3 separate regions of the Homo sapiens genome follow, and all the other regions are linked to region 1. The links come from fine-mapping of genetic effects on gene expression. A gene starts in region 1. Each other region holds a variant in brackets. All regions are shown on one strand. Distances are between the middles of the regions. Region 1 holds the start of CRK (CRK proto-oncogene, adaptor protein). Region 2 overlaps CRK (CRK proto-oncogene, adaptor protein). Region 3 holds the start of CRK-AS1 (CRK antisense RNA 1).

Region 1 (5,000 bases):
AGATCTAGGATAATTTGTGAGCTTATAGACCCCATACTCATTTTTAAAAAATGGTTGTGTTAGACTGGGTGTGGTGGCTCACGCCTGTAATCCCAACACTTTGGGAGTCTGAGGTGGGCAGATCACCTGAGGTCAGGAGTTCGAGACCAGCCTGGTCAACTTGGCGAAACCCCAACCCTACTAAAAATACAAAAACTAGCCAGGCGTAGTGGAGTGTGCCTGTAATCCCAGCTACTAGGGAGGCTGAGACAGGAGAATCCTTTGAACCCGGGGAGGTAGAGATTGCAGTGAGCTGAGATTGCACCATCGCACTCCAGCCTGGGCAACAAAAGCGAAACTCCGCCTCAAACAAACAAAGCTGGGTGCGGTGGCCCACGCCTGTAATCCCAGCATTTTGGGAGGCAAAGGCGAGTGGATCACCTGAGATCAGGAGTTCAAGACCAATCTGGCCAACCTGGTAAAACCCCATCTCTACTAAAAATACAAAAAATTAGCTGGGCGTGGTGGTGATGCACACCAGCAATCCCAGCTACTCAGGAGGCTGAGGCAGAATCACTTGAACCCAAAAGGCAAAGGTTGCAGTGAGCCAAGATCGCGCCACTGCACTCCAGCCTGGGCGACAGAGAGACTCCGTCTCAAAATAAATAAATAAGTAAGAAATAAATAAGAAAAATTTTAAAAAAATTAGTATGTGTTGGCCAGGCGCGGTGGCTCTTGCCTGTAATCCCAGCACTTTGGGAGGCCGAGGCTGGTGGATCACCTGAGGTCAGGAGTTCGAGACCAGCCTGGCCAACCTGGTGAAACTTCGTCTCTACGAAAAATACAACATTAGCTGGTTATGGTGGCGGGTGCCTGTAATCCCAGCTACTTGGGAGACTGAGACAGGAGAATCGCCGTGAGCCGAGATTGCGCCACTGTGCTCCAGCGTGGGTGACAGAGCAAGACTCCGTCTTAGAAAAGAGTAAAATAAAAATTGGTGTGTGTTAACAAAGAGACTGCCTATCCAATTCTCTATTTCTGGCCGGAGCGAGTAAATCTAAATTAGAACTATTCTACAAGGGCAAGTCTACAAAGGACGGCTCAAGAGCTTCCTGATTCATATGAGACTAGTCTGAACCCATTCTCAGCTGGCCAAGAAGAAACTGCTTCGACTTGGCAACAGCGTGAAGGCACGAGGACTCCTGATGCTGTTACACAGGTACACATACAATGAGAACCCCAGAATTACTTTGTACCTCACAAATCTCCAGTACTAAGGGCATCTATCTATTCCCTTAAAACAGTCCCAAATCAACTCCAACGGCATCGGTAAGACAGTCAATCTCAGGGATCCCTCCCTGGCAAGGAAAACCCAGCGCAGGTAATTTATGTTCTTGGCGTAGAGTCTGTTCCCAATATCCAGGAAGACTCAGCCCGCAGCCCCATCTTACTGAGCAAGGTGACGCCCTGAAGTACACACCGACAATGTTTAAGTCCAAGGAAAATGAAGTTCCAGTCACTTACAGGGAAGGGTCTGTTTCCATTGCCTCACTTCTGGTTTATTTTGTGGAATAAAATGTCTTTCCTCCACTAAACACTTTGAAAACCAGAACTCTCTAACGGCGGACAGTCTTCTGGACGCTTAGATCTCTTGCACATAGCCAGGCATCGCCTTAAACTGGGTTGGGCTGGTCACTGAAGGCTTTCTGCTACCACTATTTCTTCTAGCACTTAGTTCACCACCTTCGTCCTCCACGGGGGAAGAGAACGGTACAAAGATTTTGGAAAAATGCCCAAGAAAGGAAAAAATTGACCGGTTTCCTGAGGGTGTCTCCATCCCTCCCGGCCAGTATGTGGTGACTTCCTACCAAAGGCCACCAGGGGAGCACGGCCAAACCCGGCTCTCCAACACGGCAGGAAACGTTTCCAGCCTAAAAGCCACTTGTAGGATTATCGGATTCATTCTGGGCGCCGCTGCCAAGTGATGCCCCCGCAGTGCCAACATCTCCCTCAGCTCTTTGTCCCCACGTTGCCTTGCCCTGCCCTACCCTTGCGCCTGGCCCGGGAGCCAGCCCCACCCTGGGGCCGAAGCAGTTCCCCTTCCCCGCGGCTGCCCTCCCCAGGCACACCCCGGGGCCTCGGTCCGCGGCTCCTCCTCCCCCACACTCCTGCTCCCCGGGTGAGAGCGAGCCCGAGCAGCCGGCGGGCCCCTGCCACGGTCACCCAGCCCTCTGCCCACGACCCCCGAGGGTCCGCTCTCGAGGACCAGCCAGCCAGGCTGGGAGTTCCGCGGCCCTCACCCCGCCCAGGGCCCGCCGTCCCGTCAGTCCCTCACCGGGCGGAGGCTGGGCGGGCGACGGTGGCACCGGCGGGCGCGGGCCGCTGCTGTTGATGATGTAGTGGGAGACGCGCGAGTTCTCTGAGACGCTGAGCACATAGTCCCCGGGGCTGGTGCTCGAGTCCCGCACCAGGAACACCCCGTGCCGCTGGCCCTGCAGCAGCGCCACCGCCTCCTGCCGACTCAACCTCCCCCAGTACCAGCTACTCCGCTCCTCCGAGTCGAAGTTGCCCGCCATGGCTGCCTCCGCGCCTAAACGCTGGGGTGCCGCCGCCGCGCGCGCCCCTCCGGCCCCCGGCGCCCGCCGCCCAGCGGACCGGCTCCGGTTTCAGCTTCACAGCAGCGCCCGAAATGGCGGCGGCAGCCGCGGGCCTCCCCCTCCGGAAATGACGCGCTCCCTGCCCGAGGGAGGCTGCCGGGAAGGGGCCCGCGGCCCGCCATTGGGAGAAGGGCAAGGCGCCCTCGCGCGCGCACTGCGCATGCGGATTCATGGGCGGTGCCGCCCTTCCCGGGCCCGGGCTGCGGGGGATGGGAGGCGGGGTCTAGGGCCCGAGGGGCGGGGCCTCGCAGCCTCCCGCAGAGACGCGCGCCTGCGCTGCGGACAGAGCGGTGCTTCTCGTCTGGGCCCCGGTTCCTGGACGACCTGGGACTTCTAGGCAGCGACTCCCAGACAGAATTGGAGGAGAAAAGATGCGTGTGGCCCTGGGGCCTGAGTTCTCGGCCAGGCTTCCTGCGATATCAGTCTGTTTCTTTTTTCTTTTTCTTTTTGAGACGGAGTCTTGTTCTGTCGCCCACGCTGGAGTGCAATGGCGCGATCTCGGCTCACTGCTCCCGGGTTCAAGCGATTCTCCTGCGTCAGCCTCCCGAGTAGCTGAGACTACAGGCGTGAGCCACCGCGCCCGGCTGTTTTTTGTATTTTTAGTAGAGACGGGGGTTTCACCATGTCGGCCAGGATGGTCTCAATCTCCTGACCTCAGGTGATCCGCCCGCCTCGGCCTCCCAAAGTGCTGGGATTACAGGCGAGAAACATCGCGCCCGGCCACGTCGGTCCGTTTCTGCTCGTTCCTCTAGCTTCTCCACAGACCAGCTGACGTTCTCATTTTCATTGATTCACCTAGGACATTGTTGTTGACACTCCACTTGCACTGCGGGTGCAAAGGTTATCATGGCTGGGCCCTGCACTCCTCGAACTCACAGACCAGTGAGAGGAACCAGGAAACTGGATGACAAAAGGATGACAAATGCTGACAAACGCTATCATGGGAAACGGACATGAACACAGAGCAGAGCCCCCACAGCCAGTCTATGGAGTAATCCAGGAGGGCTTCCCAGAGGAGGCAGCATGTGTTGACTGCTGAATGACAAATGGGGAAGGACATTCTTTCTTTTTTTTTTTTTTTTTTTTTTGAGATGGAGTCTCGCTCTGTCGCCCAGGCTGGAGTGCCTGGGCGTGATCTCGGCTCACTGCAAGCTCCGCCTCCCGGGTTCACGCCATTCTCCTGCCTCAGCCTCCCGAGTTGCTGGGACTGCAGGCACCCGCCACCACGCCCGGCTAACTTTTTGTATTTTTAGTAGAGATGGGGTTTCACCGTGTTAGCCAGGCTGGTCTCGATCTCCTGACCTTGAGATCCGCCCACCTCGGCCTCCCAAAGTGCTGGGATTACAGGCGTGAGCCACCGCACTCGGCGGGGAAGGACATTCAAAGCAAAGGGAGCAGAGTGTACCAAGCCACGTGAAGTACAGAGTTCTCTTCTCTTTTGAGGCTTTGGGGTCACCTGCCCAGATAATTCTAAACACTAAATTGTAGCCAGGGGCATCTCCTACTCTCACTGCCCTCATGATTGCCTCTGGACTGTGTTCCTACGAGTGTCGTGCTCGCTGGTGCTCTTTCGTCTGGCTGCCCCTAATCGCACTGCAAACAACTCCCACTGAGTTTTCTAAAATACAGATCTGGCCGGGCGCCGTGGCTCATGCCTGTAATCCCAACACTTTGGGAGGCTGTGGCTGGCAGATCACCTGAGGTCAGAAGTTCGAGACCGGGCTGACCAATATGGTGAAGCCCGGTCTCTACTAAAAATACAAAAATTAGCCAGGTGTGTTAGCGGGCGCCTGTAATCCCAGCTACTCAGGAGGATGAGGCAGGAGAATCGCTTGAACCCAGGAGGCGGAGGTTGCAGTGAGCCGAAATCATGCCACTGCACTCCAGCCTGGGTGACAGAGGGAGATCCTGTCTCAAAAATATATATATATGTATACAAATCTGAATGTGTTGCTACCTTGTGTAAAACTTTTAACAGTCTTCAGGTGTTCAAACTCCCAGTTTAGCTCAGAGCATAAAATTGGGCCACAGTCTCTCTCTCTCTTTTTTTTTTTTTTAGATGGATTCCTGCTCTGTTGCCCAGGCTGGAGTGCAGTGGCGTGATCTCGGCTCACTGCAATCTCCGCCTCCCGGATTCAAGCGATTATCCCTGCCTCAGCCTCCCGAGTAGCTGGGACTACAGGCACCCGCCACCACGCCCGGCTAATGTTTGTATTTTCAGTAGAGACGGGGTTTCACCATATTGGCCAGGCTCATTTTTTTTTAATTAAAAATTTTTTCTGGCCAGGCATAGTGGCTCATGCTTGTAATCCCAGCACTTTGGGAGGCCAGGAGGTCAGGAGTTCGAGACCAGCCTGGCCAACA
Region 2 (7,039 bases), 21 kb before region 1:
CTACTTCAAATACAAAGGTGAAACCGAGTGCTTGCCCCAGAACTGTTACAATCTGACAATACAAAGGAATGTACTAATCAGTGAATGTAGTAATAACAGTAGTTCTAACACTACTGATTTCAAAATTCAAGTTATAAATAGGAAAGAAAAATCCTAATATGAATTACCAATGAACAACAAAGACTTCATACAGGACTTGAAGTACTACAAGGTAGTTAACCTTTCTTTCCAAGAGGGAGACCTCACTACAGCAAAGAGACTGATGAGTCTCACCACAGAGGAACTGTTTTACTGTCCAGGCTGGTCCTCAGCCTCCTCATCCTGTAACACATTCTTAGGAGCTTCTTACAGCTCTGTGGGATGGGATTTGAGACTGCACTCTGAATGTTTAAGAATAAAGACAACATAGGCCAGGCGGGGTGGCTCATGCCTATAATCCCAGCACTTTGGGAGGCTGAGGCAGGCGGATCGCTTGAGGCCAGGAGTTTGAGACTAGCCTGGCCAATGTGGCGAAATCCCATCTCTACTAAAAATAAAAAAATTAGCCAGGCGTGGTGGTGGATGCCTGTAATCCCAGCTACCCGGGAGGTTGAGGCACGAGAATCACTTGAACCCAGGAGGCAGAGTGAGATCACGCCACTGTACTCCAGCCTGGGTGACAGAGTGAGACCTTGTCTTAAAAAAAAAAAAAAAAAAAGGCCAGGCGCGGTGGCTCACGCCTGTAATCCCAGCACTTTGGGAGGCGAAGGCAGGTGGATCACGAGGTCAGGAGGTCGAGACCATCCTGGCTAACACGGTGAAACCTCATCTCTACTAAAAATATAAAAAATTAGCCAGGCGTGGTGGCGGGCGCCTGTAGTCCCAGCTACTTGGGGGGCTGAGGCAGGAGAATGGCATGAGCCCAGGAGGCGGAGCTTGCAGTGCGCCGAGATCACGCCACTGCACTCCAGCCTGGGCAACAAAGCGAGACTCCGTCTCAAAAAAAAAAAAAAAAGAAAAGAAGAACAAAGACAATATAAGATTGAGGTATTTAAACAGAGTTTGCTATCAAGTAGAATGGTGGACTTAAGACTATATCCTAAAGAACCACAATCCACAAAACACCTAGAAAAGTTGACTAAAATATAACAAGCATCCTTTCATCTTCACTTTTTTAGGAAGCAAGTCCCGGCTGTATCATGGAGTCATTCATAAAGAAGACTGAATGTGGTTACTACAGTTTCTTTGCTCCCAAGGAACGTAACAAACACTGGCTATTCCCTAGCTCTGTGTCGTTTTCAAGGCTAATCGATCCTGGTGCAATCAGATCTAGAATTGGTACAGGAACAAAAGATTACCCAGCTGATCAATGCGTTCCAGAGATAATGAGAACAAAATCAGAACCCAAATGGTATCAATGTTTGGAATTCACTACACAGGGGACATCACAGAACTGGTTTTCTTTGCTGGCGCAAACCCAGGTGACTGCTTTTCTAGGTCCCTACTACCAACCAGCAGCACATCACTGACTGCTAACATGCCTTGATCCAGACTTGCTTTCAGTGAGCTCAGGGCAGGAAGCACACACAAATTCATACACACAAAACCAGGGAAGAGCAAGTACAGAGAGGCAGCACAGGAGCCTTCTCTTCCAACCTCCTAGGCTCAAGCAGTTTTCCTACCTCAGCCTCCCAAGCAGCTGAGACCACAGGTGCACACCACCACGCCTGGCTTTTTTTTTTTTTTTTTTTTTTTTTTGAGATGGAGTTTCACTCTTGTTGCCCAGGCTGAAGTGCTATGGCACGATCTCAGCTCACTGAAATCTCTGCCTCCCGGGTTCAAGTGATTCTCCTGTCTTAGCCTCCCGAGTAGCTGGAATTACAGGCGCCCACCACCACGCCTGGCTAATTTTTGTATTTTTAGTACAGACAGGGTTTCATCATATCGGTCAGGCTGGTCTCAAACTCCTGATCTCAGGTGATCTGCCTGCCTCAGCCTTCCAAAGTGCTGAGATTACAGGCGTGAGCCACCGCACCCAGCATGTATGGTTTTTTTTTTTTTTTTTTTTTTAGATCACCTGGCTAATTTTTAAAAACATTTTTTGTAGAGACCGGATCTCACCATGTTGCCCAGGCTGGTTTCAAACACCTGGACTCAAGCGATCCTCCCACCTCAGCCTCCGAAAGTGCTGGGATTACAGGCGTAAGTCACAGCACCTGGCCAAACATCAGCCTGTTGTTTTTGCAGCTTTATTGGAACACAGCAAGCTCATCTGTTGTTTTATCTATGATTTCCTTCTTGCTACAATGGCAGAGTTGGGACACAGAATTTAAGGCCCTCAAAAACCTTTACAGAAAAGGTTTGCAGACCCCTGATCTAAGTAACAGGTAGTGTATCTAGGGCCCATCGACAGTCTTTCAAATTGATGGAAACAAATGAGGACAATTCAGCCTTAACAATTCACCTGCATCAGAGATGGACTGAAACTGGCATGGGTAGTATTGGTGGAAAGCTGCCAGTGTTTGAGATTTAACAGTCCACATGAACAGAAAAAACATCCCACAGAATCCTGGGAGATAGGCCTTACCCTGGTTCTGGTGTGAGTCACAAAGATCTCTAGCTCAACTGATAATGCCTGAAGCTAAGCTCCCCATACCCTTGATGAGCGGTGACCACACATAGTACATATGTTTTAGCTCAACATAAAGACATTTCTAGAAATTGGCCAGGCACGACAGCTCACACCTGTAATCCCAGCACTTTGGGAGGCTGAGGCGGGTGGATCACCTGAGGTCAGGAGTTTGAGACCAGCCTGGCCAACAAGGTGAAACCCTGTCTCTACTAAAAATACAAAAATTAGCCAGGCACAATGGGGTATGCCTGTAATCCCAACTACTCAGGAGACTGAGGCAGGGGAATCACTTGAACCTGGGAGGCGGAGGTTGCAGTGAGCCGAGATCGTGCCATTGCACCCCAGCCTGGGCGATGGAGTGAGATTTCGTCTCAAAAAGAACCAAAAAAAAAAAAAAAAATCCAAAAAAACCCAATACCCAAATCAAAAAGGAAAACTTACTAAAATCATAAAACTAGTTTTCTACTCAAATCTTTATTTAATGAGATTTGTGTTTCACAGCAGGTAGAGAAGCTCAACCATTTTTTTGAGCAGTAAAGCCTCTAATTAAGGCA[G/C]GCATGATTAAATCTCTGAGAAAGGAAATGCAAATAGAAGCAAAATTCACATGATAACTGGTTTCTCCTGGGTCAGCTGGCTTGTTCCATGGCTTTTTTTCTTTTTCTTTTTTTGAGACAGAGTCTCACCCTGTCGCCCAGGCTGGAGTGCAGTGTCATGATCTCAGCTCACTTCAGCCATGACCTTTCAGGCTCAGGTGATCCTCCCTCCTCAGCCTCCCAAGTAGCTGGGACCACAGGCACGTGCCACCATGCCCAGCTAATTTTTTGTAGAGATGGTGTTTTGCCATGTTGCCTAGGCCGGTCTCCAACTCCTGAGCTCAAGTGATCTGCCCACCTCGGCCTCCCAAGGTGCTGGGATTACAGGTATGAGCCACACGCCCAGCCTTTGTTCCATGTTTTCATACTTACTTCAACCCAGTGCTAATAAAGTCTGTAATAAATGTCAAGAGTTACATCTAGTGACTCAGTAAGGCCAGATAAAAATAAAAAAAAGCAGAGAGGAAAAAAAAAAAAGAAAATAAAAAGGAGTAAGATCCATCATACACACAGCACCATGCCAGATGTTACCGTCATCTGAACTCACAGGAAGACCTGAGGGTAGAAATCTATTTTCCTCCAAACAGGGAATGGGAACAAGAGGCAGTGATAACTCTGACAACATACATTCCATTTCTCATTCAAGCCAGGACTGCAGGTGCATGCCACCACGCCTGGTGATTTTTTTTTTTCACTTTTTGTTAAAAAAAGCTGAGGTCTATGTTTCCCAGACTGGTCTTGAACACCTGGTCTCAAGTGGTCTTCCTGCCTTAGCCTCCCAGAGCACTAGGATTACAAGTGTGAGCCACTGTGCCCAGTCTGTACTAGCTTTTACACTGAACCATCAATTCTTCTGAAAAGAAAGGAAGGGAGAGAGGGAGGAAGGAAGAAGAAAGGAAGGAGGTAGGAGAGCAAGGTGTGAGCGTGGAAGAGAGGAATAAAGGAATTAACACCATGTAATGGCTGGCCAGAAGGAAGTGGGCTGCCAAAGATATTTCATCAGTAAAGGCAAAAATTAATTCCTGAGGAAGAACTGGCTTTTTGAATGATTTAGAAAGACCCGTGCACCTGCCACTCCTCGGAATGAGGACTTCTGGGTGTGCATCTCTTCAAACCTCTACTAGGCCTATTTCCTCCCGGATTCTACTCAATGAACATTAGTGGTAAGGAACTTCAAGTCCCCTGAAGCAAAAACAAGTTTTTGCGGGAAAATTCCATTTAAGTGCTTTGATAGAGACCACTTATTACACTCAAATCCATCTGAACCCACCTTCTTTTAGACAACGACAAACAGAAAGCAAGAAACAGATGAGGATGTAGATGAGGAAAAACATTTGAGGTTAATTCCTGTGAATTCAGGTGGTGTTATTAAAGTAGTCCAAGTGTGTTTAGTAGATCAATTAAGAACATTCAGTTATACAGTTTTAAGCTTACTCATTCCCAAACAGGTTTTCTATGAAGAAGAGAAAACCCAACATTCAATGCCAACATCAGTGCTTAGCGGCTTGCCATCTACAACATCCCAATGCTGTAGTCAGCATTGCTACAAAGCTCTAAGAGGACCGAGAGGAGACCCTGCAGCAGATCTCTTCTTTCTACATTGTGCACGTTATGTACCTCCAAAGCCAAGGCTGTCTTGTCGTAGGCATTGGGGACTCGCTTCTGGATAACCCTGGCATATATGGGCCCATTCTGGAGGTTAGGGAGCGGAGTGTTGACGCTGGGTTGGGCATAGGGCCCAGGCTCCGGCCCACCCAGTGGCTGTGGGTGGGAACCCTCCTGGTTACCTCCAATCAGAGCCGATACTGAGGCGGAGGCAGGTCTATACTTCTCGACGTAAGGGACTGGAATCATCCCTCTCTTGCCTTCGCTGTCCTCCGCATTCCACCACTGCTCTTCAGGCTTGTCCCGGATTCTCAAGATGTCTCCTTTCTTAAAGGGAAGATCTTCCTCATCATTCCCATTAAAGTCAAAGAGGGCTCGCACATACTCCGCCTCCTCCTGCCTGAGAATCACTCCACTACCCTGCCTGGATCTGGAAACTGGTTCTATCAACGTTGTAGTGTCCAAATAGTGTATTTTGTAGAATTCCAGTAAAGCAGGCAATGAATCAAACTCTTGATCTCCTATTCGGAGTCTGGAGGGGCTCACCCCTGGAAAAAACAGAGCAGGCTGTTATTTAATGATGTACTACACTGGAAATGAAATGCAGATTTTATTTTTATTTTTTTTAGAGTTGGGATCTCACTATGTTACCCAGGCTGGTCTTGACCTCCGGGGCTCAAGTGATCCTCTCACCACAAACTCCTGAGTAGCTGGGACTACAGGAGCCCACCACTGTGCCTGGCCGAAATGGAGCTTTCATGCATGCCTCATACACATTTAGTCAAGATTTAATCAGCAAAAAAAACTCTAGAAAAAATAACCCCTTCTCTTCACAGCACACCAACATCACATTTGGAAGCTGAAACATCCCCTGGGAAGAAAGATGCCCATCACTACAGCCCCAGGGAAGGATGAGGAGGCCAGGAGACTAGGCTGATCAGGACGTGCTCTCATACTTGATCAACGACGGGGGCTTTCACTGCATTCTCCAAATATGTTCTGTCGCTACCCCATTTACAGAGCAGTGTAAGCCTCAAGGTTCTGTTGCATGTTTTTTTTTTTTTGAGACCAAATCTCACTGTGTCGCCCAGGCTGGAGTGTAGTGGCGTGATCTCTGCTCACTGCAACCTCTGCCTCCCGGGTTCAAGCGATTCTCCCGTCTCAGCCTCCTGAGTAGCTAGGATTACAGGCTCCCACCACCATGACAAGCTAATTTTTTTTTTTTTTTTTGTATTTTTAGTAGAGACGGGGTTTCACCATGTTGGCCAGGCTGGTCTCAAACTCCTGATCTCAGGTGATCCACCCACCTCAGCCTCCCAAAGTGCTGGGATTACAGGTGTGAGCTACTGCGCCTGGCCTGCATCTACTTTTCAACCTCAGGAAATGTAGCAAGCTCTTGTTTTTCATGGGTCCCTGCTGCTGTTCAGAAGGTGGAGAGAGCTTGTGTCTGCACTGAGCTCACACATTTTTTCTCTTCACATCTAGAATGTATAATTCCGAAGAAGAAAAACTATCTCTTGTTGTGGTTTTCGTTGTTTTTGGGACAGAGTCTCGCTGTGTCGCTCAAGCTGGAGTGCAGTGGCACAATCACAGCTTACTGCAGCCTTGACCTCCCAGGCTCAAGTAATCCTCCCACTTCAGCCTCCTGAGCAGCTGGGACTACAGGCACGCTCAACCATATCTGGGTAATTTTTAAATATTTTGTAGAGATGGGGTTTCACTATGTTGCCCAGGCTAGTCTCAAACACCTGGGCTCAAGCAATCCTTCGGCCTCAACCTTCCAAAGTGTTGGGATTACAGGGATGAGCCACAGTGCCTGGCCTCTGGTATCTTTTTAAATCTAAGATAGGTGATCTCAATTTTATCTTTGACAGCTAAAAGGTAAAAGAACCAAGAAGCTGAACTGAAAAACTAAGGGGCTAACTGCTTAAAAATCAATTCCCGAGATCGTAAATAAAACAGAAACTAGACTGTTCGCTATGAAGCAAACAGGTCATTAAAAAAAAAATGCTTGGGGAAATAAAGGGTTAAAACACTCAACATCTGATAACACACTGAGGATCCAGAGAAAGAACATATTACAAACGCTTAAAATTCCTAAGACACGAGTGTGTATGGTGGCCCTACATACCATAGTTCAGAATGGATTTATTCTATGCTGAGATTCTAAAACTCAAGGAAAATAAATGAACACAGTCAAACAAAACGAGTAAATTCAAACAAGAGTCAA
Region 3 (6,845 bases), 30 kb before region 1:
AAGAATCCCAAGAAAAAGTATGAAGCATTGACTAGGAGGGAACAAATGCTTCTAGTAGTGTTCTTAGAATTCTTAGGATCTGAAATGTCAGAATGAGTCACACGCTGGTCATGCTCCATACAATGAAAGCAATCCTGCTTGATACTATTCACACGGTGCATGATTACTTCACGGGGGTGGAACGGAACAGTCTGTCGCCATTTGATAGTATGGTTCCAGAATGAAAACAAAACCACTGAATAAATCAGGGTAAGCAGTGTGTAACACTCCTTCCTGTCCATCGGTTTTCCACAGGGTGATTTGCACTGCCTGAGAGAAAGGAGGCAAGATACCTATCCCTTCTGATACACACAGGCACGACCACTACCGCCTCCAATTGCCAATTCAGAAGCTAACACACAAGCCCTCCAGTTCGTACCCTGAATATGGTAATTAAGACTAGGAATGGAGCAGTTCAGTCTAAAAAATATCACAGGTAACAGAATGCTTATATAAACTAGACTGCTTTTGACATCTGTAAGAAAATTGTATAGATGGCAGTTGGAAAAAAAAAAAAAAGATTGTTCCCATCTGTCAGCAAAACTGTTGAACTATACTCAGCTGAAGTCCTCATCGGGATTCTGTTGATCCAGCAGACGGACATGTGTGAATGGGAAGTGACCTCGTTTGCCATTACACTCCCCTTCCCACTGACCACTCACATTAATCTTCGTAACCTTTACCAGCTCACCGACCTGCAGGAGGAGAATAAGGAGAGCACTTTATTTCCAGGTAGGAATGCAAGCTGAACAACTCCATTCTCTGGTTAGGCACACCCTGCCCATGTGACTGCTCTAGGGATATTACAGAAATGGCCATTTGCTGCCTCCCCAGCCCCAGCCACCAGACTGATTACTTGTGGTTAATGCAGGCAGAAGGAAAAGTGTTTTTAGCAGTGTGGAAAAACAGAGAATACAGAAAGTAAAAGGGATTCCAGATAATGATACTTTTTGATTAAAAAAGGAAAGTGATAATTATTGGAAATCTCAGCTGTCTCTGCATGAGCAATCCCAACTTCAGTGAGTTAGCTACTATTCCCTTTCTTTGTACTCACTACCCTCAGCTTTCTGCCTGCTCCGCAGGCCCTGTCCGAGGAGAAGCAGCTTTCTCCGTTTTTTTTTTTTTTTTTTTTTGAGACGGAGTCTCTGTCACCCAGGCTGGATGACAGTGGCGTGATCTCAGCTCACTGCAAGCTCTGCCTCCCAGGTTCGAGCAATTTTCCTGCCACAGCCTCCCGAGTAGCTGGGACTACAGGCGCCTGCCACCGTGCCCAGCTAATTTTTGTATTTTTAGTAGAGATGGAGTTTCACCATCTTGGCCAGGCTGGTCTCGAACTCCTGACCTTGTGATCCACCTGCCTTGGCCTCCCAAAGTGCTTGGATTACAGGCGTGAGCCACTGTGCCTGGCCGCCTTCTCCCCGCTTTAGCATATGGCAGCAGCACAATCCCCCAGCCCACTCGCACAAGACCTGGCCTGTTACTGCTTGCACAGCAGAAAGCGATCATGGCAAGCATAGGTCACTTGGTCCTAGAGAATCAAGTGTTCCTATCACCTCCTGACCCAGGCAAGCCTTTTCCCATATGGGCAGGTAGAGGCCAAAACTCCAGGTCCAATTAGCTCCCAGAAAACCCCCACCTCATTCAGTAAGCTCTACTTCACAAGCCACTGCCTGCCCAGCCCCCAAATCCCACCATCGGACAGACCTTGCTGCTCCCTCAAAGCCGCTTGTTACCTGATCATTACCCAATGAGGGGTCAAAAAAACCAACCATGGCCGGGCGCAGTGGCTGACGCCTGCAATCCCAGCACTTGGTGAGCCTGACACAGGTGGATGGATTGCTTCAGCTCAGGAGTTTTTGAGACCAGCCTGAGCAACATGGTGAAACCGTCTCTACAAAAAATACAAAAATTAGCTGGGTGTGGTGGTGGCTGCTCATAGAACCAGCTACTCGGGAGGCTGAGGTGGGTGGACTGCTTGAGCCCAGGAGGCAGAGGTTGCAGTGAGCCGAGATCACATCACTGCACTCCAGCCTGGGCAACAGAGCCAGATCCTGCCTCTAAAAACAAAAAAAAACCTTATGTTTTGGCATTTATTTATAAAATGTCTCTTGTTGCAAAATGAAATATAAAG[G/T]TTTTTTTTGTTTGTTTTTTTAAGACAGAGTCTCGATCTGTTGCCCAGGCTGGAGTGCAGTGGCGCTATCTCAGCTCACTGCAAGCTCTGCCTCCCGGGTTCACGCCATTCTCCTGCCTCAGCCTCCCTAGTAGCTGGGACTACAGCCGCCCGCCACCACGCCCAGCTAATTTTTTGTATTTTGTTTAGTAGAGATGGGGTTTCACCATGTTAGCCAAGATGGTCTCGATCTCCTGACCTCGTGATCCGCCCGCCTCGGCCTCCCAAAGTGCTATGATTACAGGTGTGAGCCACCACGCCTGGCCATCTTTTTATCTTTTGTTTTTGAGACAGGGTCTCACTCTGTCACTCAGGCTGGAGAGCACTGACACCATCATGGCTCACTGCAGCCTGTAACTCTTGGGCTCATGGGATCCTCCAACCTTAGCCTCCCGAGTAGCTGAGACTACAGGTGCACGCCACCATGCCCAGCTAATTACAGGCATGAGCCTCCACACCATTTATGCATTTCATACAGTATCAGGAACTTTCAAATTATGCATCTGGGCTTGTACTGGGTTCCCTAAAAATGTACGCAGGCACATCTACTGGCCAAAGCCAACGTAAGTCCAGCCGCAGGGCCTCTTCCAGGCCCAGCCTGACCTCACTTACAGATGGAACAGCTTGCCTATTGGCCCCTCTGTTGTTTCCTGAAGAACTCTCTAAAAATTACAGAGGCCTGAAGTCACTGTATGGGTCATAGGATGCTGAGAAAAGGAGGGACAGAAAGAAGGGGATAGAGAGACACATAAGACACAGAGGTTGAGAAAAAAATAGCAGCAGGCTTGGTGCAGTGGCTCATGCCTGTAATCCCAGCACTTTGGGAAACTGAGGTGGGGGGATGGCTTGAGCCCATGATTTTGAGAGCAGCCCTGGCAAAAGAGTGAGATCTTGTCTCTACAAAAAAATTTAAAAAGCCAAGTGTGGCCAAGCGTGGCCAAGCGTGCTGGTGTGCGCCTGTGGTCCCAGTTACTTGGGAGGCTGAGGTAGGAGGTCACCTGAGCCTCCTGGGAGGTCAAGGCTGCCCCCTAGCCTGGGCAACAAGACCCTGTCTGCAAAAAAAGAGAAAACCAAGCAGCTAACCCAGCCTGTGTCGTGACAATGCCGGCTGAGCACACGTGTGGAGGAAGGAGAGGAAGGGATGATGGCCCAGCCTGTGTCGTGACGATGCCAGCTGAGCACAAGTGTGGAGGAAGGGGAGGAAGGGATGATGGCATGCCTATCCTTACACACAGGTAACAATCCTCACAGGTTGCTGTCACCAGGACTCTCACCACACCTGGCCTGCCAGCAATTTTAGAATTCAACGTTTCTCACATCTGGGCAGGGTGCTGTGGGGCTCACGTCTTTAATCCCAGCACTTTGGGAGGCGAGGTAGGAGGATCACTTGAGCTCAGGAGTTCAAGACCAGCCTGGGCACCATAGTGAAACCTCATTTCTACAAAAAATAAAAAAATTGGCTGGGCGTGGTGGCGCACGCCTATAATCTCAGCACTTTGGGAGGTCGAGGTGAGTGAATCACGACGTCAGGAGTTCAAGACCAGCCTGGCCAAATTGGTGAAACCCCGTCTCTACTAAAATACAAAAATTAGCCAGGTGTGGTGGCAGGCGCCTGTAATCCCAGCTACTTGCGAGGCTGAGGCAGTGAACTGCTTGAACCTGGGAAGAGGAGGTTGCAGTGAGCCGAGACTGTGCCACTGCACTCCAGCCTGGCCAACAGAGTTACACTGTCTCAAAAAATAAAATAAATAAATAAATTAGCCAGGCATAGTAGTGTGCGCCTGTGGTCCCAGCTACTCAAGAGGCTGACATGGGAGGATCACTTGAGCCCGGGAGGCAGAGATTGCAGTGAGCCAAGATAGTACCAGTGCACTCCAGCCTGGGCGACAGAGCAAAACTGTCTCCAAAAAAAAAAAAAAAAAAAAAAAAAAAAAAAAAAAAAAAAAAGATTCTGACATGCCCCAGCCAGGCTAGGCAACAATAGCAAGACTGTGTCTCTTGAAAAAAAAAAAAAAATTAGTAAGGTATCATCGTATGCACCTGTAGTTCCAGTTACTCAGGAGGCTGAGGCAGGAGGATCACTTGAGCCTGGGAGTTTGAGCTGTAGCAAGCCAAGTGCACCACTGCACCCCACCCTGGTGGAGAGACCAAGATTCTGTCTCCAAAAAAAAAAAAAAAAGAATCTTGGCCGGGCGCGGTGGCTCACGCCTGTAATCCCAGCACTTTGGGAGGCTGAGGGCGGCAGATCATGAGGTCAGGAGATCCAGACCATCCTGGCTAACACGGTGAAACCCCGTCTCTACTAAAAATACAAAAAATTAGCCAGGCGTGCTGGCGGGCGCCTGTAGTCCCACCTACTCGGGAGGCTGAGGCAGGAGAATGGTGTGAACCCAGGAGGCGGAGCTTGCAGTGAGCCGAGATCACGCCACTGCACTCCAGCCTGGGTAACAGAGCGAGACTCAGTCTCAAATAAATAAATAAATACCTCAATGTTATATTGTCTTTATTCTTTTTGTTTGTTTGAGAGAGAGTCTCACTCTGTCACCCAGGCTGGAGTGCAGTGACGCTATCTTGGCTCACTGCAACCTCCACCTGCCAGGTTCAAACAATTCTCCTGCCTCAGGCTCTCAAGTAGCTGGGACGACAAGCACAAGCCACCATGCCCAGCCAGTACTTTTTTCGTATTTTTAGTAGAGACGGGGTCTCACCATGCTGGGCAGGCTTGTCTCGAACTCCTGACCTCATGACCCGCCCACCTCGGCTTCCCAAAGTGCTGGAATTACAGGCATCAGCCACCGCGCCCAGCCTATATTGTCTTTATTCTTAAGCATTCATACTGCAGTCTCAAATCACATCCCACAAAGCTCTAAGAGGTGAAGGGTAGGTTGAAAAGTGGACCAGCCCCACCCCTTGCTGTTAACACAGAACCATACCAATTTCTCAAAATGTGGGGCAAAACCTGCTAATGTGCCTCCAGATCTTTTCTTTCAGACTTTTTTTTTTTTTTTTTTAATGGAGTTTTTGCTCTTGTCACCCAGGCTGGAGTGCAGTGGTACGATGCTGGCTCACTGCAACCTCCGCCTCCAGGATTCAAATGATTCTCCTGCCTCAGCCTCCAGAGTAGCTGGGACTACAGGCGCCCGCCACCACGCCCAGCTGATTTTTGTATTTTTAGTAGAGATGGGGTTTCACCATGGTGGGCAGGATGGTCTCGATCTCCTGACTTCATGATCTGCCTACCTCGGCCTCCCAATGTGCTGGGATTACAGGTGTGAGCCACCGTGCCAGCCCTTCTTTCAGACTTCTAAGGGATAAATGAGTAGGGATTTCTATGAGGCAAGATGTTATTGGGGAAAGGAACTATGTGTAAATTAGACCTTTGGACCATATCAGATCTTTTTTTTTTTTTTTTTTTTGAGACAGCGTCTCACTCTGTTGCCCTGGCTAGAGTACAGTGGCATGATCTCAGCTCACTGCAACCTCTGCCTCCCAGGTTCAAGTGATTCTCCTGCCTCAGCCTCCTGAGTAGCTGGGACTACAGGCATGTGCCACCACGCCCTGCTAATTTTTGTATTTATAGTAGAGATGGGGTTTCACCATATTGGCCAGGCTGGTCTTGAACTCCTGACCTCGTGATCTGCTCACCTCAGCCTCCCAAAGTGCTGGGATTACAGGCGTGAGCCACCACGCCCGGCTCAGAACTATCTTTAATGTACAGATTCTCTCTCTTTTTTTTTTAGATGGAGCCTCACTCTTGTCACCCAGGCTGGAGTCCAGTGGCGCAATCTCAGCTCACTGCAACCTCCGCCTCCTGGGTTCAAGCGATTCTCCTGCCTCAGCCTCCTGAGTAGCTGGGATTACTGGCGCACGCCACCACGTCCGGCTAATTTTTTCGCATTTTTAGTAGAGATGGGGTTTCACCATGTTGGCCAGGCTGGTCTCCAACTCCTGACCTCAGGTGATCCGCCCACCTTGGCCTCCCAAAGTGCTGGGATTACAGGTGTGAGCCACCGTGCCCAGCCAGATTCTCTTGGATCTACCCTGCAGAGGAAAACCATGCCAAAATCTAAAACTTTTTTTTTTACACCGGGTACGCTGGCCTGCACCTGTAGTCCCAGCTACTTGGGAGACTGAGGGGAGAGGAACCCTTGAGTCCAGGGTTTTTTTTTCTTTTTGAGACACTGTATTGATCTCTCACCCAGGCTGGAGTGCAGTGGCACAATCTTGTCTCATTGCAAACTCCGCCTCCTGGAGTCTTGTGCCTTAGGCTCCCAAGGACCTGGGATTATAGGCGCCCGCCACCATGCTCAGTTAATTTTTGTATTTTTAGTGGAGACCAGGTTTCACCACATTGGACAGTCTGGTATGCAACTCCTGACTTCAAGTGATTTGCCCAACTCGGCCTCCCAAAGTGCTGGGATTATAGGCATGGGCCACCTTGCCCAGCTGAGCCCAGGAGTTTGAGGCCTTCCTCAGCAGCACAGTGAAACTCTGTCTCTCTTAAAAAAAAAAAAAAGAGGCCAGACGCAGTGGCTCACACCTATAATCCCAGTGCTTTGTGAGGCCCGAGCAGGAGGAAGATTGCCTGAAGCCAGGAGTTCAAGATCAGTCTAGGTTACAAAGCAAGACTCCATTT

What was found.
Region 2: its variant is fine-mapped to the expression of CRK in whole blood (INTERVAL, PIP 0.97).
Region 3: its variant is fine-mapped to the expression of CRK in whole blood (TOPMed, PIP above 0.99).

What each region holds. Positions count from the first base shown.
Region 1 is chr17:1,453,563-1,458,562 of GRCh38, forward strand. It overlaps CRK (CRK proto-oncogene, adaptor protein), which reads right to left and starts at 2,670. Exons shown (of 3, transcript NM_016823.4): 1 at 2,315-2,670. The coding sequence starts at 2,555. RefSeq lists enhancers at 203-704, 1,839-2,824 and silencers at 2,089-2,218, 2,329-2,388, 2,479-2,978.
Region 2 is chr17:1,431,799-1,438,837 of GRCh38, forward strand. CRK (CRK proto-oncogene, adaptor protein) reads right to left here. Exons shown (of 3, transcript NM_016823.4): 2 at 4,822-5,357. Among named protein-coding and RNA genes, the nearest start is that of CRK-AS1, 11 kb to the left of the region's middle. RefSeq lists enhancers at 252-752, 753-1,253, 6,957-7,039. The variant G/C (reference allele first, on the strand shown) is at 3,166.
Region 3 is chr17:1,422,917-1,429,761 of GRCh38, forward strand. It overlaps CRK (CRK proto-oncogene, adaptor protein), which reads right to left. Exons shown (of 3, transcript NM_016823.4): 3 at 1-734. The coding sequence ends at 597. It overlaps CRK-AS1 (CRK antisense RNA 1), which reads left to right and starts at 1,670. Exons shown (of 1, transcript NR_198965.1): 1 at 1,670-1,749. The variant G/T (reference allele first, on the strand shown) is at 2,171.